Linked DNA regions of Homo sapiens. The protein of the gene in region 1 interacts with the protein of each later gene in a biochemical or structural test. Each region holds a gene or a part of one and is shown in the gene's direction. Other genes may lie near its edges. The genes, in order: EDEM3 and TXNDC5.

What was found.
Region 2: the proteins of EDEM3 (region 1) and TXNDC5 form a complex in vitro, tested with the Homo sapiens proteins (one study listed by BioGRID).

The regions. Positions count from the first base shown.
Region 1 is NC_000001.11:184,689,737-184,704,726, reverse strand, and holds the end of EDEM3 (ER degradation-enhancing alpha-mannosidase-like protein 3 isoform 2 precursor), read left to right. Parts: intron 1-1,730; coding exon 1,731-1,916; intron 1,917-3,182; coding exon of another isoform or gene 3,183-3,230; intron 3,231-10,254; coding exon 10,255-10,664; 3' UTR 10,665-14,490; downstream 14,491-14,990. UniProt on the Homo sapiens protein: Involved in endoplasmic reticulum-associated degradation (ERAD). Accelerates the glycoprotein ERAD by proteasomes, by catalyzing mannose trimming from Man8GlcNAc2 to Man7GlcNAc2 in the N-glycans.
Region 2 is NC_000006.12:7,904,412-7,920,094, reverse strand, and holds the start of TXNDC5 (thioredoxin domain-containing protein 5 isoform 1 precursor), read left to right. Parts: upstream 1-9,306; 5' UTR 9,307-9,318; coding exon 9,319-9,581; intron 9,582-10,017; exon of another isoform or gene 10,018-10,282; intron 10,283-15,371; coding exon 15,372-15,521; intron 15,522-15,683. UniProt on the Homo sapiens protein: Protein disulfide isomerase of the endoplasmic reticulum lumen involved in the formation of disulfide bonds in proteins. Can reduce insulin disulfide bonds.

The DNA.
Region 1 (14,990 bases):
TTCTGTGGATAAATAAATAAGAGATGATGATCCTTACTCTCAGAAATTTTTTTTTTTTTTTTTTTTTTTTTTTTTTTGAGACAGAGTCTTGCTTTGTCACCCAGGCTAGAGTGCAGTGGCATGATCTTGGCTCACTACAACCTCCACCTCTAGGTTTAAGTAGGTCTTATGCCTCAGCCTCCTGAGTAGCTGGGATTACAGGCACGTGCCACCAAGCCTGGCTAATTTTTGTATTTTTAGTAGAGAAGGGGTTTCGCTGTGTTGGCCAAGTTGGTCTCAAACTCATGGCCTCAAGTGGTCTGCCTTGGCCTCCAAAAGTGCTGGGATTACAGCCATGAGCCACCGCACCCAGCCAAAAATTTAATTTTTAATGAGAAACTTTCTTGTGTTGACTTCTTTCTCCTGAGTTTTTTGTTTCTGACAAAGCATTTTGTTTTTGTTTTAATTGTATATAAATGAATAAATTAGGAATTAGCTGTTTTTTGTTGCAAGGGTTAGAAATACGAATTATCTTAGAAATCATGTGGCTGCAGGAGATAATTACGTTGGTTTAAGAAGGGAGGTTTTTTCACTACACAGAAATGGATTATTTTTAGTGAATTAAACAGTACAAATACAACTAGGATTCACCAGGAGGTAGAAGTGGGAACTAAAAATCACCAGGATCCATGATAGTGAATGTTTTTCACTTTTCTCTCTGTATCTCTACCTCTGGGTCCTTCTGAACTTTTCTTCCCTGCTTCTCTTTGCAATTCTGCTTCATTTTCCAGCTTCTCACCAGCCTTCTCTCTCTTTGTTCCTCAGTTCCAAAATGGCCATTCTAGTTTGCAGCCTCAGCCCCTAAGTCTGTGTCATTCAACTGGACTATTACCCCCTGCTAACTGAAACAGTCTTTCTGTGTGCCAGTTCCAGGTCCCCCAGAGAGACTCAGGGTCAGGTAGCCATCTTTTGTCTAATCAATTATTACCAAGAGGATGGGTCATGCATTCTGCACTTAGCAGGTCCTATGAGAGTGAGCACCCTGAGACAGGACAGATAGTTTCTTCTGGGAGACTGGCATGCGATTTGGAGGTGGTCGTGATTGTCGTCTTCAGTAAAACAGCATGTTGCTGGTACTACTACTATTAATAGTTCTACTACTATTATTTAACCAATGCAAAATAGCAATACTGTTTAGTTTAGCTTATAGAGGAAGAAGCACTATAGTCATAACTATTCTTTGTGTGCATTATATAAAAAAGAAATGTCCATTTTTAGTTTGGTAAAACAATGTAATCATGCCAGTAGTGGAAATTTTCAACAATAAAATTCATTCATAGTTCTATCACTGTAATCCGAGTCATTGATTTTTTCCTTTCTAGGCTTTTCCATAAGCATATGAAATTTTTATAGTCATAATCATAGAATTCTGTATTCTACTTTTTAAATGTATTATTATTCTGTGTGTCCTATCAAGTAGGTCATTATAATTTACTTATAATGGTGTACAGTTGTTTACAATTATAAATAGTCTAGTAAAATTATTTGGGCATAGGGCTTTTCGCTACTTTTGAATTATTTCCTTTGGATACGTTTCTATGAGAATTAATGGGTCCAAAAATTATGTTGGTTTTTATGGTTCTTGATGCATAAAATTAATTCTGTCATTGTAAAAAATCAGTAACAATTAGTAGATAGATCTTTTTAATGGCTGGATATTTTGATGTTTGCTGTATTTATTTTCTGGCTAGATGACAATGAGGGGAGCAGCAGTGATACTGCCCCTCTGTTCCAGATGGCAGGTGATGGAAAGGATACAGATGACATCAAGATCCCCATGCTGTTCTTATTCAGCAAAGAAGGAAGTATCATACTGGATGCCATCCGGGAATATGAGGAGGTAGAAGTGCTCCTCTCTGATAAAGCAAAAGATCGAGGTAAGAGTAAAATACCATTTGTTTTTTTATGCAGCGTAATATTAATTTTGCTAGTTTGATAACAAGAATGAGTCACAAAAAATTGTTTTGGGGGGTTCACTGTGAAAACAAGTAAAACTTTTAGAAGATGATTTCAAAATATATTTTTCTTTTGGAAATAAGAATAATAAAACATTTATTTTGCTTTGTTTTCTGAGTTAGGATGTTTTTAGACATATGTTTTTATGTGTGATTTGTAATTTTTGCCCTGAGTCTGTTCAGGTGATAAAAATACAAGAGACTGCTTCAGGAAAGCCATTTTAACATCCGGAAATGTTCACAATTTGATTTCACTGATACTACATCTTACATGTCTTTTATAAGGAATGAGAAGACATATATAGAATGTTGTATACAATATCATAGTAGTTAGTCTCAACAGGCCACCTATAATCAAATGACTGCTGTCTTGGTGAAGGCAATAGAAATCTAGCAGCTTCTTCCCAATGAGATCTAAGTTTATCACATGGATATAAGAGTTACAAATGGCTGTTTCTGAAAAACAAGATAGCATGTCTTAATTTATGAGAGTAGATAGTCCTCTGTAGGCCAAAATGTTTGTTAGTAATTTGAAATGTCTTTGAAACCCAAATTACAATATAAATGCAAGGCCTTACTAGTATTCTTACATAGTTTCACACCCAGGGATAGAGGAGAAATGAGGGAATGTGAGCCTTCAGATCTTGCTTGTGGTAGCAGTCTTTCCTGTCTGCTGGAGAGACCTGAAGAGAGAGCTAAAGTTCTCCCATACCCTTAAATAGATGAAGTTGCATAATAGTACAGGGTTGTTACATCCCCTGGGGTGTTTGACAGATATGTAGGAAACTGATTCAATTCAATGTGACTTCCAAGTGGGACATTTAAAAAAAAATGTTCGGTGATAATCATGCTAGCATAATCATGCTAGCCTAATTTTGTCTTCTTGTATTGCTTTATTCTTCTTTGAGATTCTTTGAAATGTCAATTATTTATGAGCAATGGAGTGAGCAAGTAGGTTGTTTGTATATAACAATGTATAGATGGAAACAGAACAGAATACAAAGGTTTTCTAGTCTTAAATCCTCTGTATACCTGATTTTTTTTTCCTGGGCCCTTTTCTAAACTCAGATCTTCTTGCCTACATATATGCATTTAGGCACATCTAACATAGGCAAATTATTATTTCTTGTAACTCTTTAATGCATTTGCTTTTTTTCCCCCTATTTTGTGCTACCACTGGAATTTCAGCAGCAATATTAAAAGGTAAAATGATTCCAAGCTACATTATTAATAGTAGTAAGTATCTTGCATTAACAAGCCTTAAATTATATACGTATATATGTATTTGGGTGTGTGTACACACACTCAAGTACATATATAATTTTGTTTCAGTGGATACCATGATAATATCTTGTGTAACGTAATTAGATTATTTTCATGTCTAGTCAGCAGTCACATAATAATTTTAAATTCTAATAATTATACATCCCATACAATAGATGAATTCTATGTCTATGTCCATACAAGAGTCACTCTAACAAAGGCATTGTTGTTTTAGTATTTATTACTTTGATCACATTTTATTTGAACACAATGTAAAATATTTAAAGTATTGACTTGTTTTAAAAGCTCATGTGTGTGTATGGTACATGGGTTAGGACTACAGGATTATGGTACAGCATGTGCTTCCTGTACCAGAGAAAGGTTATGAGACATGATTAATTCTACCAGAAAATAAGAATTCTTGGTGAACAGTATCCCCTTAAGGACCTTGCATTAAAAGGGCATTATTTAAAAGATATTTTTTGAAAACTTTAGTCTATAAATTTATTGAACTGTGATTGTTATAGAGTGATCTTTTGATAAAAGTATTGAAAAGCCCCCTTTTTGTGTAATAGCTCTTTATAGAACTGTACAGCTATATTAATTAGCAACAAGATACAGTCTAATTGTTAATATTTATTAATGTAACAGAAATCAATGGTAATAGTGTTATGAAATCAACAAATGTATTCACTTAGGATATCCTAAGAAGCTACACAGTCTGTAGCGGTTATCATTTGTCCTATACCATTACTACATACATCAGTGTTTCTCCCCTGCATCAGAATCAACAGATACACTTGTTAGAAGTGTTGGCTTCTGAGTCCTGCTCCAAATATTCAATCAGACTTTCTGATTCAGACTTTATGATTGGGAATCAGAATCTGAAACTTCAAACAAACATCCCGGGTGATTGTGTTGTAGCTGCTTCCTCAGCTACACTTTGAGAAATATTGAACAAGATTCAGAAAGCACCCCTTTTTTGTCTCCCAGCTATGTATCAGGCCATATTGTACCATTACAGGTACTAGTTAACAGATTATATAAGTACACTAAGTAACAACATCCTTAAAATCTGAACAATAAAATGTTCTCCAGATTGCCTTTTCTAGAAATGTCATTCCACAAATACGTATTTTTCCATATGAAGTCACACAATGCTGATTAAGAAGTCCTTTTCATATTTAATACAGAAAATAGAAGCCCTTAAAAAGCCTTCACTCCTGTCTTCTTCTTCTGATAAGTCCATGCCATTAGTATAGATGTATCTGAAACTGTTCTGCTAGCAGAAATTTTCTGGTCATCTTAATACACATTTAGAAGCCAAAAAGCATTAGCATTTTATCAAGTGATGTTGCTTCCTTAGGTCAAACCTGTGACACTTCTGAAAGTTAAGCTATCCACAGTCTATTGTTGAACAGAATTTTCAATATCATATCTCTCAGTGTTTCATTTTTCCAAAATTTCAGTTTGTAAAGGTACTTAATTATTCCAACCGTGTGCCCACAAACAAAAGGCAATGTTTTGTTACCTTTAGGTCCAAATTGAAGCAGTTTACAATTAAGAGTAAATTTCCTTTTTTCAATAGTATTTGTCACAGGGAAAAAAACATCAGCATTTTTAAGTTCCAATTCATTGTCATGCTTGCAGCTTAGAGTGTAAGCCTATAGTGCCTTAAGGGCTCTAGACAAATGCTTTCAAGCAACTGTATTTGTCTCTATCTGGTAAAGAGCCAGACAGAGAAAATGGAGGAAAGAAAAAAAAAGGTTCCATCATTTGCAATGCTCTGATTTAAGTCAGGCAGGGTCACTTTTCCTGATTATCCCCCACTGAATTTGATTGGTGTGAATCTGTTCTACAGCTGAACTGCACACCTTAAGTTGCTGTTGGAAAGGATTTGATTCCTAGGAGAAAAATCTAGTACATATGCAGATGAACTCTACCTGGAGAGAAACATCTGAAACATTCTTCTTAGCAGAATTGATACTTAACCTTCCCTTCTCCATCCAAGACATGTTTTCTCATGCATTTTCACATTTGCGCCATCTCTTCCCTTTTTCTGGAAGTTCCCTATCAATCCCTTTTCCTCTCCCATGGCCCTTTTCCTCTTTGAGAACATTTAGATATCCTAAATTTCAAATGCCACCTCCTAGGTAAAATTTAAGGGTGTCCTTTTAATACAGTTCTACTATGATAGTTAAATAGTTCTTTACCTGCTTCTCATCTCTATATTCCTTGCTTTCAGTAAACATTTAATGTACAGATGAATGAATGAATGAATGAATGAATGGTTCTAAAACATCCAATCTCTAAGTCTTTGCCAAGGTTCACTTCCTCTTTTATTATTAAAACATACTGATTTTGTTTCTCTGTATTTTGAGATTTTCTCCATTCTTTCTGTGTTTCTGATGTACCATTCCTGAATTTAATATTGTGGTTGTTATGCTCTTACGACTTTGATCTCACATACTGGTGAAAACAGGCACCTTAGGATCAAGATTTGTAGCAATGTGGCAGACTTTAACTCTTCTATCTTTTTGTAGTTCTCTAACTGCCATTTTTACTTTCCTGATTGTTGCTTTTATTTCTGGTTCTATAGCTCCTTCAGCTTGCGAAAACCAAAATATTTTCTTCCATGGGCATCTTCTTCAAAGTTCTTCTCTCTGTCTCTCTCTCTCTGTCTCTGTCTCTCTCTCTGCTTCTCTACATTTAAATTTAGTTGGCCCCTGGTGACTTTCCTATAGTGCTGCATAGAATAGTTATTGGTATCTTTTTAAAAACTTTATAAAATTAAACTTGTAACAAATTAAACAATCCAGAAGTGTATTAAAAACTTTTAAATAATCTCTCATCTTTCTGAGATAACCAACCAATGTTAGCAGTTTGATGTGTAATCTTTTATATTCTTCTTAGTGCTTTATACATTTCTAAATATATGTATCATTCAGTAACTTGCCTTTTACAGTTAAAGCTATATTAAAGACATTCCTCCAAGTTAGTAGGATAGCATAACTTATTCTTTTGAAAGCTGCATTATGTTTTGCATTATCACTGTACCATAATTTATTTAACCATGTCACTATTAGGCGTCCAAATTATTTCCAGGTTTTTGTTTTGCCACTGTATACAATGGTGTAGGTAACATTCTCGTACATATCTTCTTAGATATGCATACTTTTTCTAGAATATTGAGATTTACTAAAATGAAATGCTGGCAGAAAGTATATGGGTCGTTTTCATTTTAATGGATGTTGCAAGTTGCATTCCAAAAAAGGTTGTAGCAATTCACATCCTTTCCAGCAAGATATGAGAGTACATGTTTCTTCCTATTTTAGTCAGCATATTTCCCTTTATAGGTATATTTTTTGTTTTTTCTCTTTATGGATTGCCTAGTCATATGTTTTGCATTTTGCCTTCTTTAAATAAGATTCTGTGTCTTTTCTAGATATTTTATAGGACCTCTCTGTTTGTGTGTGTGCGCATTTCCTATATTTACATACATACTCATAAAGAAATAGAGGTTCTATAAATTATCTAGAAAAGACACACATATAGGGACAGAGGTTACACACACACACACACAATTTTCCCAACATGTCATCTTTTCACTTTGTTTATGTAACTTTCATAACATTTTTAGGTAATCAGAAATATTAATTCCTTTGAGGCTCCTGGGTCTTCTGTCTCACTTCAGAAGATCACTCCATCCTGTTTTTACATAATATTTTCCTAAATTCTTCTGGCATTTTTACCATTTTTTACATTTTGGTCTCTAAATCATATGGAATTTTAAAATAAAAGTTAGGAGTCTTTCCAATTGAGTTGTCAGTTACTAAATACCATTTATGAAGCAAACCACTCATTTCTCCTTCAGTTAAACTACCATCTTTGCTATATATCAAATATTCTTGCATAGTTGGATCTGCTTCTAGACTTACCCTTCTCTTCTACTAATGTGTTTATTCCTTTGCCAATAATAAAAGTTTGCTGTTTTGAGTATATTTTATTATCTGATAGGGCAACTCTCCCCTCACTGATTCTTAGAATTTCTTGGCTTCTCTTTGACATATGCTGTTCCATAGAAACTTTAAATTAATTGTATCTGGTTCTAAAACGAAAACAAGAAGTACAAATGAGATTCATTTTGAAATTATATAATTGCATACTTTACATATAAATTAGGAAAATGTTAAATATTAAGACTTCATTTAAGAATATACCTATAAATTTAATCAAATCTTGTTTTATGTTCTCATTATGATTTTATTTAAGCAACGTGGGTCTTATACCTTTTATAATAAATTTAATTCTATGTTTTGTAGCTTTTTATTATGAAAAGGTTTAATGATTATATTTTAACTATTTATTGTTACTACAAAGGAGTTATTGGTATTTGCATAGTCTTCTTACCAAATTTTTTTTATCAATTCTAATAGTATTTTTTTATTAAAGTTGCTTTGACAGTGTACGATCACAATCTGAAAATACAAATAATTTGATCTTTTTCTATATTTACATTGATTATTCTACTTTCTTGTCCGATTACATCAGCTAGATTTCCAAAATAATATCGTATATGTAACCCTAGGAGAGTTTTTTATCACAAGCACAATCTTCATTACCAGGTAAAACAACCCTACACCTTTTCCTCTCCTTCTAATCTGGAATAATACAATCTAGAAAGAAACTTGGAGATTTTTCTTTTTGTTCTCTCTTGAATTTAGGGAACCTAGGATAAATAAGCTGTAAGTAGCCAGCTACCTTCTTTCTTTGGTCTGCACCATTGGTTTCCCTAATTGCCTAATTAAATTGTACCTTTTTCACAGCTTAGAAGACAGAGATTGTGTGGAATTCCTCAATCCACCCCCTGCTGATCCTCCCCTCCGGAAAAAAAACCCTAAGAATGTAAACTTTCAGAGTCAAGTAATCCCATCTAATCAGGGTGAACATATATGCATTGTAGGGGCAGAAAGGGGTGATCCTTTCCTCCCCATCATAAAGGGTTACAGCGGACACCCCGGGTTAAAAAAAAACAAAAACAGGTTAACAACAGAAAAGCATAATAATTTTATTATGTGTACGTGTGTGCACAGGAGCCATACAAAATATGAAAGGGGACAGGTGGTTGAAGCTTAAATACCCTCTTCTTAGGGTAGAGGAATACTAGGGAATGAAGAGGTCCAGTGCTTAGACAATGATTGGTAAAGGATTCTCTTTGCATAGTATCTAGATAAAGTCCCCCAGTTAATCTCTCAGCTGTCCTCAGAAGAACAGAAGAAAAGTCTGTTTGGGTGTGGTGAGGACCCCTGTCTCTACTCTTCTCTGATGGCTCATTTTTTTTCTCGTTATTTGATGAGAGTCCTAGGGAGGGATTCTTGAGACAATTGCATTTCATTTGGAAAGAAGCTTCCTTAGATAAGAAAATTCCAGAGAGAATCCCCCCAGTTGCTTCAGGAAAGAGGATCAGAGAGACAGGGAGGCAGGGGAAGGTCAGAGACAGACTGGTTCTGAGGCTTATTTCTGAGACCTTTCAGTTTTCCAAGCATTCATCATGCTGAAGCACCATATTTTGGGGAATTGTTTTCTGTGCCCCAGCAATACCCACCACACCTTCCTGCATGTCTACATTTCCTTTGTTTTTTCTGGTTTTTAAATAAATCCTCTTCCCTCCCTTCTTTGACATTATCTTATACTTTAAACCCCAGCTCAAGTGTCACTTTCTGAAGGAACTTTTTGAAGAAACTTCTCAAATCTCCTTACAGTTCTCCCTCTGTATCTGTGGGTTCTGCACCCATGGATTCAACCAACTGTGGATAGGAAATATTCAAGAAGAAAAAAGCATCTGTATTGAACATACAGAGATTTTTTTTCTTGTCATTATTCTCCAAACAATACAGTATACCAATGATTTGCATAACATTTACGTTGTATTAGGTATTATAAAGTAATCAAGAGATGATTTAAAGTACATGGGAGGATGTGTGTCAGTTATATGCAAATACTGTGTCATTTTACATAAGGGACTTGAGCATCCAAAATCCTTATCTCTCTTTCATAACGTGTCACAGTTGAGTTTTCTATTTATTTTCCGTGATTATTTGTATAATATCTTTTTCTCCCGTTGGACTATAAGACCCATAAGGGCAGGTATAGCATTTGGTATTGCTCCTCATTTTATCCCTAGCACTATGCAAATGATGACTTGGAGGATATTTGCTGGCCAACTGCATCACAGAGGCAGAGACTGAACAGGATGTAGCATGTAGGCGTCGATGCTATTTAAGCACTTTCTTGTAGGAACCCTAAATAAAATGCCTCTACTGGTTTCACTGTATATTCATTATAAGAGGTTTAACTCACTCTTCAGCCTTCCAGTGGATTTTAAAATGACTATATCTTATAATTCATAGGCCTAAAATAATAGAATTTTATGAATAATCTCAGTTCTTGTCTTGTGAAAGTATTTCTGATCAGTCACATTAATACCCTTAGTCATTCAAAAAAATCTATGTTATCTGCTTCTTTATGACTTACTGAGTAGGAATTTCACTTTTCAAAGGAATATTATTTGAAAATATAGCAATGATATATGCTGTTTAAAATTGATTCTGTTTAATATGTTCTTATGCATAAGCTTTAGGTATCTAATACATTTTAGCCATACATTGCAAATCTCTATATATTTTAATATTATTATTGGTTAGCGTACTTCTTGGCTTACTAATGTCCACTGATGTCAGTCTTAGTTATTGTCATTCCTTCCAATTTGGAAGAACGTTTATTTTCTAACACTGACACATTTTGCACAGTGAATCTATAGGAAAATGTGACTGCATAAAGACAGTCTTCATTTCAGTGCTGATGCTCACCTTTCTGCATTAACATGAGTCTCTTTCACGTTTTATTTCATCTTGTTGCAAAAACCAATATGCTTTGGAAAGTGTAATAGTACATTTTTTTAGAGAAGTAGCATGAGGTTTGTTTCTTTCTCATACAGATCCTGAAATGGAAAATGAAGAACAACCATCCTCTGAAAATGATTCTCAGAATCAGAGTGGTGAACAGATTTCATCAAGTTCTCAGGAGGTTGATTTGGTTGATCAAGAGTCTTCTGAGGAAAATTCTCTAAATTCTCACCCAGAATCATTATCTCTAGCAGATATGGACAATGCTGCAAGCATTTCCCCTTCTGAACAGACTTCTAATCCCACAGAAAACCATGAGACTACAAATCTTAATGGTGAATGTACAGATTTAGATAACCAGCTTCAAGAACAATCAGAAACTGAGGAAGATTCCAATCCTAATGTTAGCTGGGGTAAAAAGGTCCAGCCTATAGACTCCATATTAGCAGACTGGAATGAAGATATAGAAGCATTTGAAATGATGGAGAAGGATGAGCTATGACTTGCTAAACAATCTGTTGGTAGGTATTTAAAAAGAAAAGGTAAACTGTGTGTGGTTAATAGACATCCTAATACTAAGCAGGCTTTCTAATGGGAGGCTTTAAGTATGGTGATGAACAACCACGTTCTGACTGGCGTAGTTATCGTAGGAATCTGGAGCATGCTGTGTTAGAATTGACCTTGTTTAAAACTGTCCCATCAAAAATGGAAATCCACAGTTCCCCCTTCAAATGCAGCACTGCACCACCCTGCAACACCTCAGGCCAGGGAAAGATTACTGAGCATTCCTGCGAACCAGATTTCTGTTGTCTCTGGATAGACAAGAAACAAAATTCATTTAGTAGTGGAGTGGGGAATAGGAGTTTGGATAGCCTTCTAATTAAAGGAAGCTCGCCTTTCTTGGTTTTGGGGGTTAGAGGCTCTTTTGGGAAGATGCATCCGAGTATTGTGGCATTCTGATTATGCTGCCTTCACAAAACACTCTAAGTGACCTAAGTGGTTATGAAGCAAATGCATTTATGGTGAAAACAGTCTTTGCTCATTGCTTTCTCTTGTTTCATTTAGTGACAAATGATCAAGATGACTTGATTTTTTTTCCTTCTTAACAATGTCTTTTTTATTTAAACCAAAGGTGAAGCCAGTGTACTTTCTCAGTGAGTTCTCTGCATAAAGACTAATCAGTGGGACCAGGTAAAAAGGTCATATAATACATTGTGGAGATTGCTTACTTAATACTTCTGAAAAATGGAGTAAGGGAGAAACTGTAATGTTGCAATATGAACCTCCCATTGGGCCTTCCATAGGGAAAGCTGTGACTACTCTGAAATGGAACCTAGCATTATATCCTTGTAGGGTAGATTATAAATCATTTCCAGTTCATTTCTCTTAGAGGTGATTACCTCTAGCCATCAGCCTTACTCCATCCCATGTTTGGTATGCAATTTGAGCCACAAGGCTCGTATCGCCAACAGCTATATACATTTTGTTCCATTTTTCTGTCTTACAGAGCCATGATAGAACTGTGGTTAGTGAGTTAAAATTCCTGGAGTAACTACTGTTTTTCTCCTTTGAAACTTAGGTTTCTAAAGTTGCACCTAAGGAATCTGTCACATTTTCTGTTGAATCATGGTTTTTGTTTTTGTTTTTAACAGATATTCCTTCTGATACGGACTTGAAAATTAGTGTATGGTGACCTGTGTTTAAAAAAAAAAGTACAATACAACTACATATAGCTATATAGCTTAATGAGACTTCCACCCCCCCCCTTTTTTTTTTTGGTTTGTTGTTGTTGTAGTAGTCTGGTGCTGGCCACATTTAAGTCTTAAAAATTTTTAAATTTTGTTGTTGATGTTTGTAGACAGCCCTGTTGTTGAAATCATGGCTTTATTCATTTTATTTATTTTTTAAACTTGCCTGAATTTGTTCTAAAGGAATATTTAAGAGACATAATTTTCTTCTCTTTACCATAACATTACACAAAACTTTTTCCTAAAACACGGTTGTGAGGTACTGATGAGGTGTAAGTGGAGCTGTTAAAAACAGCAGTGCTGTATTGCAGTTATGTATATTCGTGTACAGTATGTTTAGATCCCAGGTAAACATATTCTTTTCTGAGAGGATAAATACCTGCATTCAGATATTCCAGGTAAATATAATTGAGTCAGGGAGTAGTAAATCTGATGGAGAATTCACTTTGGGGAGGGGAAAAAGAATAGTATGCAAGACCCTTATTGGCTTTTAATTATACCTGAAACCAAAATGGATATTTTTAGTCTCTCTGCATGTGAGATTTGGTGTAACAAGATAGAACTATAATATATACAGTATATGGAAGGATAGATATAGTGCTTTGTTCATTTTAATTGCAAAGCTGCCAAAATAGTTGAAGCTTAATTACTTGACTTGCCTTGATTTATAGGACTGGGGCTTGGAGAAAATGAGCAGATGTTCCTCTAAGACATCGATTACAGAAGCCTTATATACATGGATTTGATTTTGTATTTGTAGCTGAAAGTCACTGTTGTCTAAAACTAACTTTTCTAAGTTATCAAAACAACCTAATTTCTTTTCCAACAAGGAGAACTTAATGGCATGAAGGATTGTGTGACACATTGGAAAAGCCAGCTTACTGCCACTCTCTTCCTTTGGCCATTAGAGGGAGGTGTTGCCTTTCATTGACGCTTAGAAGCAAATTGTTCACTTGTTAAGAAAAGTAAATCCTTAAAAAAAGAAAAGGAAAAAATTTAACCAATTTTTCTTAATACCCAGAAGGAATTATACTCAATATTTCCCTAGTTAAGAAAAGAGGAGATAATGTTCGTCTAAAAAACTCCAACGTTGTAATTACAACTCTACATTCATTTACTTACTTGACATACTGCCACAAAGTAGTTTTTGAGTTCATTAAAAATTCCAAAGGCATTAGTTGTTTTTTTTTTTTTTAGTGTTTTGTTTTTTAGTTAACTTTTATAGACATTTTAGTAACTTGCTAAAGATTCAGGGGATTCTATGAAACCCCGAATTTAGAAACATCTGGTCTACCTCAGTTAAATGTTGACTGCTTAGAAATATAGCTGAAGTGATCACCACAGCCATAAAATTGTTTAAGAAAGATTTATATAATGTTTACAAATCTGGAATCAAGGATTTTAGCTGAAATCCTTTAAGAGATATTAGAGCAAGTATTTAATTCAGGTATTTTCAAGTTTTAAAACTTAACCTGTTTACCTACTAAAAATAAAATAGCTAGTTTTTTTCTGCATATAAAAGTTCATTGAAATGATATGCCCTTATTTGCAATACTTTTCCCATAAAGTTTTAAGTGTGAAAGAATTGTAATTTACTAGATATGTTTGGTATGGGATATTTTGTTAGGCAAGTTTTCTTTTTTCTTCTTAAATTGCAATAGGCTTCCAAAAAGAGTATAATTGTTTCAGAACAAATTAACTCTTGGCATTATACGTCTCCCTTTTTCTTTACAGTATTAGTAAAAAGAAAAATTGTACACTTTCTGATTTTAACTTCACTAATGTAATTACTCTCTCAAGAAGCTTTTAAAATTTAAATTACCATCACACAACCTTTTTTATAGTAAAGCCAACATTTGTTCTCTCACCAAACCCCATGCCAAATTCATCATGAAGAAAGCTCAGCATAAGTAATTCAAATACTGCTTATAATTTTAGAGGGGGGTAGAATTTAGTAAATATTCCAGCCGGTCGTTTTATGCACAAGGCTTCAGTCAGAACATAGAAAAAAAAAACATTCTGTGAATGAAATATTGTATGTTCAGATTTTATAAAAGACATTTTTAAAAGCCCAATTTACAGCCGTATATTTTCTTATGATGTAATTTATGAAAAAGATGTCTGTACTAACAGGTGCTGTAACACTACTGTTGTTGGATTTTATTGTTTGGTGATAAATGTATACAATATTTCTAAGGGAAACTATGTACTGTGATGTAAAAGTCTGGGCAAAATGTATATAATCCTGTATATAATTATGTATTTGATTATAATTACTGATTGTAAAGATTTAATAAAATATGTAAATATTCCAGTTTAGTTTTAATTTGAATTTTTAGAATCACTGTGCATATCCTCATACTTTTATGTCTTGATGTTTATCACTCTGTTTTCCTTTTTTTTTTAAACTCATTTTATCCTCCGGGGATTGAATTCTGGGGACATTTTAGGCTGTAGAAACCCAAGCTTGTGGGCTAAAGTAAGGATTTTGTTCTAAGAAATCACTGAAAGTTTTTCAACAAGTCAGTAGCATGCACAAAGGTAATGCTAAGTGAATAAAACTCTAGAATTGTGTATAAATTATGATCCAGCGCTTGCTCACTCTCTCCATACACATATATACATACACATTATATATATATACACACACATATATATAATGACATTGACTCATTTATTCAACAAAGATTAAGGGCGTGCATGCCTTCTGTATGCCAGGCACTATTATAGGACCTGGGGTTGTAGTGGACAGATGGACAAAATGTGGTAAAGAAGATAGAAAATAAAGTAGTAAGTAAAAAGGACAATGAGTTTATGAAGAAAAAATTATGGTGAGGGGATAGAGAGTGGTGGAAATCATGGAGTGAGTTAAATAGCCAAAATACTAACAGTGGTTATCTTGGATTGTAGGCAATTGCTATTTCCTTATTTGTATATGTCAGTATTTTCATAAGTTTCCAAAATAAGCATTATGCTTTTAAAAATAAGTAGTTTAGGTCAGCGAAAGAAGAGAACATGAAAAATACACACGAGGTGGGGCATAGTGGTGCACACCTATAATCGCATCTCCTCCTCAAGAA
Region 2 (15,683 bases), on another chromosome or scaffold:
CTCAGCCCACATCTGCTGAGTCAGCAAATCCTGTTGGCACATACATCAAAAGAGACCCGGAACCTGCTTCTCATCACCCTCCCACCTCCGCCTTAGCGTGAGTCACCAGTATCTTGTGCTGGGATGGTTGTAATTGCTCCCGGAGTGGTCGCCTCCCTTCTATCCTTGCCCCCTTCGCATTCCTCGCTACAGCTCTCAGAGCCATGCTGTAGAAATAATTGGAAGCCAGATCCTGTCGTGTTTCTTCTGAAAACCCTCCGATGACTTCCCTTCTCATTCGTAAAAGCCAGTGTTCTCATTCTGTACTGCCTTCTTATTCATTCGCTCTAAGTCCTTTGCAGTTGCTGATCCCTCGGCTGGAACCAGATATTCACATGTGTTACTCCCTCACGTCTTTACTTGAAAGCCATGTCCCCAATAAGCCTATCCAAACCCTGACATCCCATCTGAACCTTGACACTTCATACCCCCTTCCTTGCCTTGTTTTCTTCTGGGCTTCTACCACTGGCTAACATAGTGTTTATCTTCTATATCTTACGTATTGGCTGTTTCCCCACCTACAATGGAAGTTCATTAGGACTAGGGTTTTTGTCTATTTCAGTTGTTGCTGATCCTCAGCACCTAAAAACGTGCCTGACACAGACTAGATCCAATAAATATTTGTTGAGTGAATTCTCTTGCAATTAAATGCACACAATGGAAGAGGAGATGTTGCAGCTATAATAAGCAAAGGAAACCAGACATTGATCCTTCCATGTGAAATACGACCCAAGCTTCTATATATAATACTTCACAGAGTGTTCTGCAGAGGATTAACAACACAAGAGACACCACAAATAAAAAGGAGTCCACAATCAAATAAGTTGGGAAATACTGCATAGGATACTTTTAGGAATTCAGATGGTGCAATCGCAAATAAAAATCTCTGATAAATCATTTAGGAAATAGGTTTCTATCTTTTTCTTTCTTCTTCCATTAGCACTTCATCCAGCCAATTCTTAAGTAGTCTTCAAGGCACAGTGTGTTGGCCAGGTGTGGTGGCTCATGCCTGTAATCTCAGCACTTTGGGAGGCTGAGGTGTGCAGATCACCTGAGGCCAAGAGTTTGAGGCCAGCCTGGCCAACATGGTGAAATCCTGTCTCTACTAAAAATACAAAAATTAGCTTGGTGTGGTGGTGGGCGCCTGTAATCCCAGCTATTTCAATGGCTGAGGCATGAGAATCGCTTGCATCCAGGAGACAGAAGTTGCAGTGAGTCAAGGTTGCACCACTGCACTCCAGCCTGAGAAATAGAGTGAAATTCTGTCTCCAAAAAAAAAAAAAAAAAAGGACTCAATGTATCAACAGTTGACATTCTTTCAGGCTGCCCAGCTTCACTGGACACCTTTCCTGCATTTGTGGAGCCTCTGACCTAACCGCCACAAGTTAGGATAGAGCATAGACCATTGAGCCCTACTGCAGTGAGGCTTCCATTGGAAGCTAGTTTTGCGAAGAAGCAGGGGTCATGCAAAGTCCATCCTGCAGGGCAGCGGTTGCAGAGGTTCCCATGGTCACATATAGTGTCCTGTACCAGAGGTGGGATAGGAGGAATCTGCATGTCGAGGTGGTAGCAGTGGTGGCAGTATTGTGATCTAATTTGAGCAGTATTGTGATCTAATTTGAGCAGTATTGTGGTCTAATTTGGGCATTGTTCCTGGCTTCTCTATCTCCTAACCCTAACCCTAACCAAGTGTTCCTCAAACATGTCTCAGTCAGAGCTCTTCTCTTAAGAAAACACCTATTAACTTCCAGCAAACATCAGCGTTCCTTTGGTGGTCTGCTCCACATCTGTGCTCTCAGAGCCCTGCTACAGTCCGCCACAGGCGCACCAGGGACTGAGATCCTGGCTGTGTCTCCTCTAATCCCAGGAATTCTCAACCCTAGGAAGTAGGACAAAGCCATCAGTATTGCTTTCAAGACCTAGATGATTGCAATGTGCAGCCAGAATTGAGAACCCCCAGGTAGGATAAACATTTTCCTGGATTCTGAACTTGGAATAGTGTTCTGAAATTCAGGCAGCTATGAAGAGCTGGCCCCTAAGTGCTGTGAGAGGCATGTCCCCATGCCCGTGTGGAATGCCACAGATCCAAGGCCAAGGCCATCACTGCAGGCCAGCGCAGCTGAGAGAGGAGTGGAACAACTCAGTGAGCAACCTGCATCAGGGAGAAGTCTTCTCTCCTGTTATGAAGTCCAGGTGCTGGTGAGCATCAGCTTCTGGATCAGCCTATCGGCCCCGCACCTGGGGACTCTGGGAAAAATAAGAACTCCTGTAATAGCATCTAGCAGACAAAGAGCTGGGAGAATGACAGGGGCATGAACGAGAAGAGCCAGCACTTGCACAGACTGAATGAGCTCCTGGGAGCTGGAGTGAGTGTTCTGTGCACTTTGAGAAACAGCACAGATCATTCAGCTTAGTGGTCATGATCCAGTCAACAAAGAAACTCTCTTTATTCTCCTCCCCCCTACCCCCGAGACCTCACAGATCCCACATGGATTTTGAAAGCTTTTATCTGCCAAATACCCGAATCTGTTATGTTATAATGTAATGTGGGTTTTTGGTGCTTATTAATTGTTTAGTAGGCTGTGTTGCCCAAGGAGCTTGTGAGAGTAGTGAGTAAATATGACCTTTCCATTAACCATTTCAATACACTGAAAACAGCTCTACTCCCTGTGTGACTCCAGCCTGGGAATTCACTTTGGTCTTTTTCTTTAGATTTTCTCTGATGAGAGCAATCCTCTAGCTTTTTCTCCACCTCTCAACAATCACATTTGAATGGTCACATGAGCTCATCAAGAAAAACACAGTTTTTCTTCTTCTTTAGAGGCACCTACCAAGGTGTTCTGACCAAATTAGAACAACAGGATGTAAATGCTTTCAGTACCTCCTAAAAGCAGTACTGTTCGCCCAATAATAACTCAGGATGCACCTGTTAAAGTGGTTCAAATGGTGGCATTTCAGTTTCTGAATGTCCTGGGGTTGTCTTGACAATGTTACAACACATTTGGGTCTTGTGTTATCCTCTGGAGGTGGAAAACAAAAGCTGTATTTTTCCCATTCAGTAGCCATTCCTCCCATGTCAGTTCTTATGTGCTCCCTGGGATGAGGACAGCTTCCAACGAGAGGCTTTGCCATGCACCTACAGGGCTGCTGTCGGAAGGGAGTGCAGCTCCTTGAAGGCTGTGGATTTGCAATAAGAAGGCAGCGTAGACCGGGCGTGGTGGCTCACGCCTGTAATCCCAGCACTTTGGGAGGCCGAGGTGAGTGGATCACGAGGTTAGGAGATTGAGACCAGCCTGGCCAACATAGTGAAACCCCGTCTCTACTAAAAATACAAAAATTAGCCGGGTGTGGTGGCAGGTGCCTGTAGTCCCAACTACTCAGGAGGCTAAGGCAGGAGAATTGCTTGAACCCAGGAGGCAGAGGTTGCAGTGAGCCAAGAGCATGCCATTGCACTCCAGCCTGGGTGACAGAGTAAGAATCTGTCTCAAAAAAAGAAGGCAGTGTAGCAATACTATTTTGCTAGAAGTAGTACTAACTTCTAACAATACAGACCAACATACCTATTGCCTTTTCTGCTTGGGAAAGGCCATGATTTTGAGGGGGGTCTCTCTCAAGCAAGCCATCCTCTGAGGGTAGACAAATGTGACTTTTCATCCATTCCTTCATGCATTCATTCAACAAACAGGTATCGTATTAGTCTGTTTTTGCGCTGCTGATAAAGACATACCTGAGATTGGGCAATTTCCAAAAGAAAGAGGTTTACTGGACTTATAATTCCAAGTGGCCGGGGAGGCATCCCAATCATGGCAGGTGAAAGGCACGTCTCACATGGCAGCAGACAAGAGAAGAGAGCTTATGAAGGAAGTCTCCCCTTTTTAAAACCATCAGATCTCATGAGACTCATTCACTATCATGAGAACAGTGCAGGAAAGACCTTGTCCCCATGATTCAATCACCTCCCACCGGGTTCCTCCCACAACACATGGGAATTGTGGGAGTTACAATTCAAGATGAAATTTGGGTGGGGACACAGCCAAACCATATCAGGTATTAAATGCCTGCTGTGTACCAGACATCACGTAAACACCTCTCAGGCCATGGGGCTTACAGTTTAGAGGGAAAGTCCGAGGCTAAACAAAATTCACACAACCAAATAATTACCCTTCTGTGAAGGGATATGGGGAGAAAGGACAAGATATTAGTGCAGGAAGCCTAACCCCAGCTGGAGGTCAGGGAATTTTTTACTGAGAACATTGTATTATTTCATCGCTGTACACAAATTCAGTTGTATCTTCACTTTTAGGCTTTCTGAGCTGGAAGCCACGCTGCTTGGCGATGGGAATCTAAGCAGGACCATGTGTGGCTGCTACCATATGAAGCAACATGTCAGTCCCTTGGGAGGGCTGGGAGTTCAGAGGAAGTGACGCTGAGCAGCCTGTGTGGAGGGGTGGCCGGGTCATGCAGGAAAGGCCGCATGTGAGAGAAGGTGCCAGGCACAGTGAGTCAGTTTGTTTTGGTGGAGCCTGGGAAAGAGATGTGGTTAGAAAGAGGGGTTCCTTCATCCAACACTTGTTGAGCCTCAACTGTATCCAGGCATTTGGGTGCTAGGGAGAGAGAAGTGAATGTGGCAAATAGCCCCTGGCCTTCGGGGAGCTTATTGATGGAGAAGACGGCCACCTTAACCAGCTAAGTCTGCAACAAAATGGCATCAAATGACAAAAAGTGTTATGCAGAAATTAAACAGCATGGCACTGGTGAGAGCTCAGTGGGCAGAGGGAGGCTGCTGCAGAGAGGGGCTTTGACTTGTCAATGTGGAAAGGCAATCGCCAGGCACTGAGGAGGTGGCGTGGGGGCAAGAGACCTGAGGGTGCAGGGAGTCCAGTCACAGAAGACAGGAAGGGAACAAGCACAGGGCACCACACACAAGGGCCTGAGAAGGGGAATGCTGGGAGGGTATCTAGAATCATCCCTAATGGCTAGAATCTAGGCGAGCAGAGGGCAGAGTGGTATGGGTTGAGATTGCATCTTTCCTGAAGGCCCTTGCAAGCCAAGGCAAAGAGCTGGAATTTGACTGTATGTGAAGGGAAGCCCCTGAAGGAAGTTAAGCAAAGGAGTGACACGATTCAATTCTAGCTGCTGGATGAAGGATGGATGGGAAGGACTTAAGAGTGGAAACAACATTCAGGAGGCTACTGTAGCAGACAGGAAGAGAAGGATATGGCAGCAGTGGAGAGATATCAGTCAGTGGGAGCTGTGGCTCAGAGATGGCAATGATTGGACTTGCTGATGGGGAGATCGAGTAGGAGGCGGGGATCAAGGCACTGCAATAAAGAAAAAGGGTAACAAAGTTTACAACTCAGAGGTCGGGGGTGGTGGCTCACACCTGTAATCCCAGCACTCTGGGAGCCTGAGGCAGGCAGATCACTTGAGGCCAGGAGTCTGAGACAAAGTTTGCAACTCAGGTTTCTGGTTTGTGCAACAGCGAGGAAGAACTATTTACTGAGGAGGGGAAATCGGAGGACAAGCAGATTGCTGCAGGGAAGCACAAGGTCAGCTTCAGCACACCTGCAGGACAAACAAGAGGAGGCATCCTGTAGATAGTGAGAGCTCAGAGAGAGGCCTCGGCTGCAAATGTACACTTTGGCAGCAGCATATAGATGGTGTTAAAGCCATGGCTATGGATGAGATCACCTAGGGAGTGATGCAGAGAAACAAAAGTGGGTTGGAGGCTGAGCGCTGAAAACTGACATCAAAGGTTGGGTTGAAGAGACTGAGGAGTGACGTGGGGATGGTAGGAGGTAGATCAGAGAAGCAGAAAGGACGGTGGATGCAGATGGGGCCAATGGCAGTTGTACCAACGCTGCTGAGAAGCCCAGGAAGATGAGGAACATAAAGTGTTCATTTGACTTGTCAATGTGGACATCTTCAGTGACTTTGAGAAGACTTGGTGTGTGGCAGGTTTGAGAGTCAGAGTGGCATGAGCTGAAGGATGAATGGAAAGTGAAATACAGATAATTTTTTTTTTTTTTTTGCTTATACACTGATGAAAATGGTCCAGTAGGAAGGAGTGATGAGTAACTTGTGCAGGAGAGAAAGAGAGGAGCTGAAGAACAAAGCCTTTGAGCAGGGAGCAGGGAGGGCATATGAGATTCCTAGGGCTGCTGTAACACCACACTCTTGGTGGCATAAAACCACGTACGTTTATTCTCTTACAGTTTTGGAGGTCAGAAGTCCAAAACCAGTTGCACTGGACTATAAATTGTCCACAGGACTGCAGGTCCCTCCAGAGGCTCTGAGGGGGAGTCTATTTCCTTGCTTTTTCCAGCATCTAGAGCTGCTTTTCCTGGCTCTTGGCCCCTTCATCTTCCAAACCAGCAGTTTAACATCTTCAAATCTCTTTCTGCTTTTGTTACGTCGCCTCCGGCTGTGTAGTCAAATTTCCTACTGCCCCTCTGTTATGAGGACACTTGTGATCACATTTAGGACCCACCGAGATAATCCAGGGTAATCTCTCCAGCTCACGACCCTTAATTTAATCACACCTGCAAAGCCTTCTGCCATATAAAGAAACAATCAGATGTTTCAGGAATTAGGACCTGGTTATCCGTGAGGGGCATTATTCTGGAGGACTGGGCTTTGCTAGGCAGGGATATACTGACTTGCTCCTTTGTGGGCAGAGGGAAAGGCGCCTGTGCAGGGGTGTGTAGATTTGGCGGGGGAGGGATAAGGGAGCTCATGCTTTTGGCTTCATTTTTCTCAGAAACATGAGATAAAGCTGGCAGCTGAGAGGATGGCGACTGACAGGGTGGGGTGGGGAGAGGAGAGGAGGAGCAGTGTCAGTGGAAGTATGGAAGCATCTCAGAGAGTGGGGCAGCACACTGCCTAGGCAGAGGTAGTCAGTTTTAGGGCAGGGGTGAGGAGGAATTTAAGGCTTATTTTTACCAGTGTGAAGGAGACATGCGGCTTGACTGTGCGATTTTTCTCCAGCAGAGTCTGGCTACCTGGTTGAAGGCACAGGGAACCCAGAGAGACAAAGCTCACCAGCATCTGTGGGGAGAATGTGGCAGGGCAGGAAGTGAAGGGTGAGACTCCATGGGCTGTAACTTGGCCAAGAGGCAAGAGAAGACATAGCAGTCTGTTGGGCTGCGAGGGGATTGTAGAAGATGGTGGGGTGGGTAGCTCAGAGGTCATGATGAGAAAGAAGCATTGCAGAAATGGGTTTCTTGAGCAAACAGTCGAGGAGGTGCTGGGCAGAGTGGATGCCTTCAGATTTTGGAGATGGTGCAGATGCTGGTGATGACAAGTGCTAGGGTCTCCCTTTTGGGTGTGAGTTACTGAGGGAAAGGTAGATGGAGCATCCACCTGGATGCTGAAGATGCCAGGAATGAAAGACAGGAAAGGGGTGGCCAGGAACACTGTGAGCCAGGAACCAAAGTCTTCACTGAACCAGGAAGAGTGATGTGGAAGAATGACAGGAACTGGCAGGGAAGAGGGTGCCATGCCCAGTGGCATCAATTTAAGGAGTACTGAAGGTTTTGTAGGATTTGGAAGGAGCAATGGGGAACCAGGAAGGCATCAGCTTTACTTCCTGGCTCTGAGGGACTCCAGGTGTGAAAGAATGAGCAGCCAACACTTGAGAGAGCTCCTAGAACTGTGTTTCAGTTAAAAACGAAAGACACTGATGCTGTAAGAGTGTATGGCGATGCTTGTGGGAATTTCCCAACAGCACCGTGGAAGGGTTTGGGAGGTTTGAGGTGTTGGAGAACACAGGGATTAGAGTTTGGCAATAACAGTTATTGGAGAGAATCCCTGGATTTCTAGTGTTGAGTGAGTTTCACAGGGACACAAAGCATGATGCAACCACATCACGGAAGGCCTTGAATGGCTGCCCCAGGCATGACTATTTCACCCCATCGGCCAAGGCCATGGGGACAGTGGTGGCGTTTTGGTCCAAGTTTAAGCAGCAAACTGTCTTGGTCAAAGGCAGGCTTTAGGAAAATTAATTTTCCAGCCATGTGAATGAAAGAGACTCTTAGAAAGCTACTGCAATAGGCCAGGCTTAGTCTCCGTTCAGGGTATGAACACTGAGAATGCTGGAAGGAAATCATGGTTACAGGAAATGCGGTTGAATTTTGAGACACACGGGAAAAGAGCGAGCAATACAAGATGCCTCCCATGTTTCAAGCTTAAGTGGCTGGAAGAACAGACTTTGGAGGGAGATTGATGGTTTTGGTGTTTGGCAACCCATGGTTAAAGGTTCATAAGTGGCTGGGCCTAAGGCGGGAGCAGAATAATGACAGGTGAGACAGTGGGCGCGTCCCCTGTTGCCAAGCCAGGAGTTAACTACCTGGGGCTTCCTGGATTGAGGATAATCAAAGAGCAGGCAGGATCCCGGAGAGCAACCCGGTGATTCTAATTTAGCTTCAGATCCCCGGGGTAGGGCTGGAGCTTTCGATTACCATCTGCTGTAAGGTGTGTGTGCAGGTGCGAGTTATGAGTCGCTGGGCAGGGATGCCTTCGGGCCATTCCACAGGCTGAGTTCAGCCATAGCAGGCGTGCTGTCATTCATTTTAGTAACCGGCATAAATGAGGGCACAGTAGGACCCCAGTCAGTCCTGCTAGGTGCCTTCTTGTCTAGAAGAGGCCGCTTTGACTTTCTTTCCTCTTCATCCCTGAGTTGAGGCCGGGCAGGGGTAACCAGCAAGGGGTTCACTTGGGAAGCGGGTTTCATCACCCCTCTGAGCCCAGGTCGAGAATCACAGTTGAGCTCTGGCCAAGAATCTAACTAATTCAGGTGCAAACCCCACCGTCTTTTGCCCGATTTCCTATATTCTGCTGACAGCAGCTCTCTCCTTCCTTTGGCCTGAAATCGCGGGGTGCTTGTGTGAGCTGAGATTAGCCGAGGCTGACCTGCCCCTCCGTGGCTTCCCGCTGGCCTCATCGTTACTTCGTGTGTTCACCGCCGCTCTGAGCAGAGCGGGCCCCTGGGGAAAGGGGTGCGGGCCTGGGTTGCGGAGGCGCAGGAGCCTCGCGGGATTGGGGCGAGCCGTCCCATGGCGGGAAGGCAGGAGGCCGGACTCGGAAGGCTCTCCCAGACTCGGTCCCTCGCTCCAGCCCTTCCCTGCCGGTGCGCGGAGCCGGGGCTCGGGCGGGTAGCGGTCGCGCGCCGGCGCGGGCGGGCGGGGAGAGGAAGGGGCGCGGCCTCTCCGGGGCGGGGCGCGGGGCGGGCGCTGCGAGGGGACCGGAGGCCGCGGCGAGAGCGCGCCCAGCCCCGCCGCGATGCCCGCGCGCCCAGGACGCCTCCTCCCGCTGCTGGCCCGGCCGGCGGCCCTGACTGCGCTGCTGCTGCTGCTGCTGGGCCATGGCGGCGGCGGGCGCTGGGGCGCCCGGGCCCAGGAGGCGGCGGCGGCGGCGGCGGACGGGCCCCCCGCGGCAGACGGCGAGGACGGACAGGACCCGCACAGCAAGCACCTGTACACGGCCGACATGTTCACGCACGGGATCCAGAGCGCCGCGCACTTCGTCATGTTCTTCGCGCCCTGGTAACGCCGCGCAGGCCGGCGCCCTGCCCCGCACTTGGCGCTTCGCGGGGCGTGGGGCGCTTGGGCGCCGCGGGCGGGGGGTCCCGGGGCCACGTGGACGCCGACGGCTCTGGTCTGCGGCGTGCGTGCTACGGGCGCGGGGCTCGGGGCTCAGGGGTGCGGGGTGTAATACTGGGGGCGCGGGGCCGGGAGCGCGGGGACCCTGCGGGTTCGGGGCTCCGGCTGGCGGGGAGCGGGGGGCGCGGGCGCCGCGGCTCGGGGCCGGGAGCCGGGGACTGCAGGGGACCGAGGGCTTGGGGCTCCGGGTCGGGAGGCGTGAGCTCAGCGGGCCGGGCACTGGCGGCTGACGTGGCGCTCGGCGGCCGGGGCGGTGCGGGAGGAGGGGGCGGACCCCTAGGGGACAGCCGGGAAAAGCCCGCCCTGCGCCGCGCTCCTGAATTCAACCGCCTCTTGCACCTCGGCACCGAGGGAGGGGAAGGTGGGGTCGTCGCCCTTTCGGGCAGCCGGGAGTCCAAATGTCACCCCGCGGTCCCTGCCCAGCGCCCCAAACTTCCTGTGCCGGCCGGACGCGCGGCCTGCCCGTGGGCCACGTGCACTCACCAGAGCGGCCTTGCTGCTGCCGCGGCCACCGGGGTCGGCTGGGACAGACTGCGGGCACGTCCCCTTCCAGAGGCTTTAACTGAAAAATAGAACCCAGGAAGGTGTGGTTTCCCACTTTGTGCGTCTTTTGTGGGATAGGAAGGAGTGGTCCGGGCAGAGGAGGGTTGCTGAGCTACCCCGGGAAGACCAAGGTAGTGCGAATTCTGGAACCCCTCCGCCCCCCTGCAGCTCAGGGTGGATGTAATCTCTGAACGGAGCCCACTGGTCCTCAACTCCAGGCTGTCCTGTCACCTCCCTGCTGCTCTCTCGGGTCCAGGTCACTTGTTATGTGTGAGATCGGAAAAGCCCCTCCGTTGAGCAGATGGTCCCTCTTGCTTTGGTTCTCTGGGCGAGGCTTTGGTGTGGGCCTCGCTGCTGACCTGAGAGACCCTACCCTGGCACTCATCCCACGGAAGAGCTTCCTGTCATTCACACAAGCATGTGCACAGCTTTCCTGCCAGTGCCGGGATGCCCCGAGGAAGGGAAGTGACCACAGGCCAGAGCAGAAAGCCATAATTTTAGGACACAAGACCTTTGAGAGGTTGGAATAGCCTGCAGGTTCTTGTTGCAGAACTTGGTATTCTTCCCCAGAGCTCAGTAGAGGCTCACTTGGGAAAGGGATGTAGGGAGGCATAGAGAAAAGGTACCCTAAGAAAAATGGCCAGTTCAGAAATTGTACCTTTCAAACTGGGAGAAACGTTTTTCTCTTAACCTTGTATTCAGGCTATTACTGCGTTTCAGTTCATTTGGAGTTAAATCAACTTTTAGGGCCACTGTGGGTTTATTAACAATGTGTATATGAAGTACATTATGTTTCACATTCCTAAGAACCAACTGACTCGAATTTTTACAACTCCAATGGTTTAGAAATTACTTTGTAACATAAAACAATCAGGCAGTATTAACAGTTTCTCTTTGTTCGGGAGTATTCTCAGCAACTATTTCAATTAAGTGTACTACTTAATTGGAGCCTATTTCAGTGGAATACATCTGTCGATGGGTTTTCTTTTTTCTTTCTTCATTATTTATTTATTTTAGAGATGGGATCTTGCTCTGTTACCCAGCCTGAAACCAGTGGTACGCAGCCGCAGCTCACTGTAGCCTCTAACTCCTGGGCTCAAGTGATTCTCCTGCCTCAGCCTCTGAAGTAGCTGTGACTACAGGCGCAGGTCATCACACCCAGCTTATTTTGTTGTTGTTGTTTTTGTTGTAGTTGGTAGAAACAGGGTCTCGCTATGTTGCCGGGGCTGGTCTCAAACTCCTGGCCTCAATCAGTACTTCTGCCCTGGCCTCCCAAAGTACTGAGATTACAGGCATGAGCCATCGCATCCCATTCTTTACTTTTTTTTTTTTTTTAAAGAAAAACTGACATGCAGATGTAATAAGTCCCCACAGTGCCAAAGGAATTTTAAGTTTAGAATCTTTGCAATAAATACCAGCTAGTCCTGGGCTGAGTGAGAGAAAACTGGCACATCTGGGCACTTGGTATTAAGTAAATTCCTTTTCCATTATATGTGGCTTGTAGACATTTAGCTGGATGCTTCCAGAATAATTAGCTTTATGTTGTTACTTTTTTTTTTTTTTTTTTTTTTTGAGATGGAGTCTTGCTCTGTTGCCAGGCTGGAGTGCAGTAGCGCAATCTTGATTTACTGCAACCTCCACCTCCTGGGTTTAAGCGATTCTCCTGCCTCAGCCTCCTGAGAAGCTGGGACTACAGGTGCGTGCCACCACGCCCAGCTAATTTTTGTATTTTTAGTAGAGATGGGGTTTCACCATGTTGGCCAGGATTGTCTCGATCTCTTGACCTCGTGTTCTGCCCGCCTCTTCCTCCCAAAGTGCTGGGATTACAGGCGTAAGCCACCGCACCTGGCATATTTGTTGACTTCTTGATAGTCTACTACAAATACTTAAACAGAGATATGTGGGTTTCTATGATGGTGTTTAAGTTGGACTTTTAAGAGGGCCCTTTCAGAAAACTGCAGATACTGCAGTAGGGCTCACGAATAGGCTGCCAGGAAAGGAGGCTGAGTGGGCGGCGAGTCAAATGGGAGGTCAGCAGGGGCAAGATCAAGTAGGACCAACAATACCTGGCACAACACTTTGGTAAGTTGTAAGGCTGAGAGCAAGGTGGTGACTCTGGAGGGGTCTATGCAGGAGAGGGAAGGAGGTCCTGGAGTGGTGAGCTGAGCGTTTGGAGCTCAGATAGAAGACTCAGTGGACTCCCCCTCAACACACACATACCTTTTTCCAGTTTCAGCTGCCGTGGAGTGGTGAAAGCCCACGTGTGATTAAGGGGCTGGGGCCCCTGTAACAAAAACATCAATCTGTGTATTTTTGCCCTGCACTTGGCTTCTGCAGGGTTATCCTGCTGCTGTAGATTTTTTGCCAACATCAGGTCACAACTTCTGTATGGCCAGTTTGTGAGTCACCCTGAACCTGGTGACAGTGAGGTCAAGATTTGGACCAGGTAGCTTTGCTCTACTTCTTGGCCACAGGCTACCTTCTGAGTGCAGCTGCCTGTCTCAGAGTTGGGTGCTGTAGCCGCAGGGCCGACTAGATAGCACCTGTGGCCCCATCACAGCCAGGAGCAAGGGCACGCCCAACTTGGTGATGGCCCAGAATGGTCAGTTTTGATTTAGCGCACCACAAACTTATTTATTGTTTATTCTCATTCTTAATCTAATCTTGTGTTTTCTCAAAAAAAAAAAAGGGAAAAAAAAAGCAGTAGCAAAACAAAACCTTGTCAAGATTGCAGAGGAGTTCTAAAGTTCCAGAATGAGCATATCTGATCAAAGTCCCCTGAAGGTCAGAACTGCCCTTGACAGTCCCTTAGGAAGGTGCCTTGTTGGACACCGCCCCAGTCAGTCAGTCAGTCCCCACTGCCAGCGTTTCCTCCAGCATTAGAACTATCATGGCTTCTTTGGTTAAACACCAAATGGACTAGTTCTCAAACCTGTGCCTTTAGACAGCAGGGTCACACTTAATGTAGTCGGAGAGATGCTCATGCCATGAGAAGCATGTAGGAACCAAGGCCTGCTGAGGAACAAAAACCTCACATCTCCCAGCTTGCACACACTTCAGGGTTCTGTGGGAATTGCCTTTTTTTTTTTCTTGTTTCCTTCTCCCCCGCCACATAAACTCACTTTGTTGAATCTACAGAAGTTAAATCTGCATGTATAGTTTCATTGTGCTTTTTTTTTTGTATCTGAGTATCTCATAAAGCAGGGATTCTCTTAGCTGGCCAAGAAAGTGCTGTTTAGGGAAGACACATTAACTTGAAGCAGACTTTTTCAGTGCTACCTTTAAGTCTGTTTTTCTTTTTTTTTTTTTTTTTTTTTTGAGATGGAGTCTTGCTCTATCGCCCAGGCTGGAGTGCAATAGCATGGTCTCGGCTCACTGCAACCTCCGCCTCCCGGGTTCAAGCGATTCTCCTGCCTCAGCCTCCTGAGTAGCTGAGATTACAGGCGTGTGCCACCATGCCCAGCTAATTTTTGTATTTTTAGTAGAGATGGGGCTTCACCTTGTTGGTCAGGCTGGTCTCGAACTCCTGACCTTGTGATCCGCTTGCTTCGGCTTCCCAAAGTGCTGGGATTATAGGTGTGAGCCACCACACCCGGCTTAAATCCTTTTTTTCTTAAGAGACAAAATCTCTGTCACCCAGGCTGGAGTGCAGTGGTGTGATCATAGCTCGCTGCAGCCTCAAACTTCTGGCCTCAAGTGATCCCTCTGCCTCAGCCTCCCAGGTAGCTAGGACTGCAGGTGTGTGCCACCACACCAGGCTAATTTTTTAAAATTTTTTGTAGATGGGGGTCTCACTGTGTTGCCCAGGCCAGTCTTGAACCCCTGGGCTCAAGCAGCTCTCCTGCCTTGGCCTCCCAAAGTGCTGGGATTACAGGCATGAGCCACTGCTACCGACTTAAATGCTTATTTTTGAGGTAATCTGTCAGAAAATAAAAGGAGATTTAACAGATTATTAAATTATTTTGAGGAAGAAGTCACAATTCTAAGCGTTGAGTGTTCATATAAGCAAGTGTGTTTAAAAAAAAAGCATTTTAAAAAGCGATACAGCAAAGTGGTTACATTGTAGGCATCAGTGTGTTCCTGCCATATTAAATAGCAAACAAACCCATGTGTCATAATGCTATGGGATTGTAGTTGAAACCTGGGATAAAGTTTCTAGGGTTGTCTCATTCAAAATTCGAGTATGGCACTGTAGACATACTGTCCAGAGAACACAGCAAGAGCTGTGGTCAGCTGTATGACTTAAGGTCTAGTGTTGGGAAAGATGCTGATATCCTCATGAAATGTGAAGCATGGCAAGAAGCCTAGTTAAGATACTATTTTAAATGATGGGTGATTTTAAAATATTTATACATAACTGAATTCATACAATGAATACTAAGAATAGACATTTGCTTACTTCAACCCTAGAAGTATAGGTGGCCACAAACTTTTTTTTTCCCCTTCTCATTGGAGAAAATTGCAGGTGATTAAATTTTGAGATTGCCTTATGTTTGTAGCCATTTGGTTATATAGTGGAGGAGACTTGACGAATAAAAGTAGCAGATACAGCAGGAAGTGCTAAGCTACTGTCCAAGGGAGGAGTAGAGAGGCTTTCCAGAAGGGCAGGAGAAGAGAATGGGTGCTGAACAGCCCGGGGAGTCAGGGCCAACTTGCTAGAGGAAGTGACACCCAAACTAAACCTGAAGGGCAGATAGATTTAGCTAGGTGGAGTTTAGGGACGAAGTGTCAGAGAGAATGTGTCCCAGGGCCAAGCCAAGCTATAGTCCTTTGGGAACACTGCAGATGCTGCAGTAGGGCTCAGGAGTAGGCCACAAGGGAAGGAGGGTGGACTCTGGGATAGAAGTCAAGCGGGAGGTCAGCAGGGCCAGAACAACTAGGATCCAGAACAACACTTTGCTAAGTTTAATACTGGAACAAGGCCAAGATTTCATGCTGAGAACAGGGCAGTGACTCTGGAGGGATGGGAGCAGGGGAGAGAGGTCCTGGAGTACTGGTCCAGGAGCTGCCATCTGCAATGGTGTAAAGAAAGGACTGAGAGCCCCATTGTCCCCTGGACAGAGCTGAAGTTGTGGGCCAGCTGCCCTGTGACCTGATACTCAATGTGCTTGTACTCTTGCCTTGTTCCAGGTGTGGACACTGCCAGCGGCTGCAGCCGACTTGGAATGACCTGGGAGACAAATACAACAGCATGGAAGATGCCAAAGTCTATGTGGCTAAAGTGGACTGCACGGCCCACTCCGACGTGTGCTCCGCCCAGGGGGTGCGAGGATACCCCACGTAAGTTGGAAGGAAGGGGGCACACTTCCTAGGTGGCTCCTGGCTACAAAGAAAGTCCTAGTTAAACTTTTGGTAAAGGTGTGAAGAGATACTAAATTTAAGCAGGCAGTCCCTGTCATTAGGGAGAAACTGCATTTAATGCTGTGTCTGTTTTAGATGGCT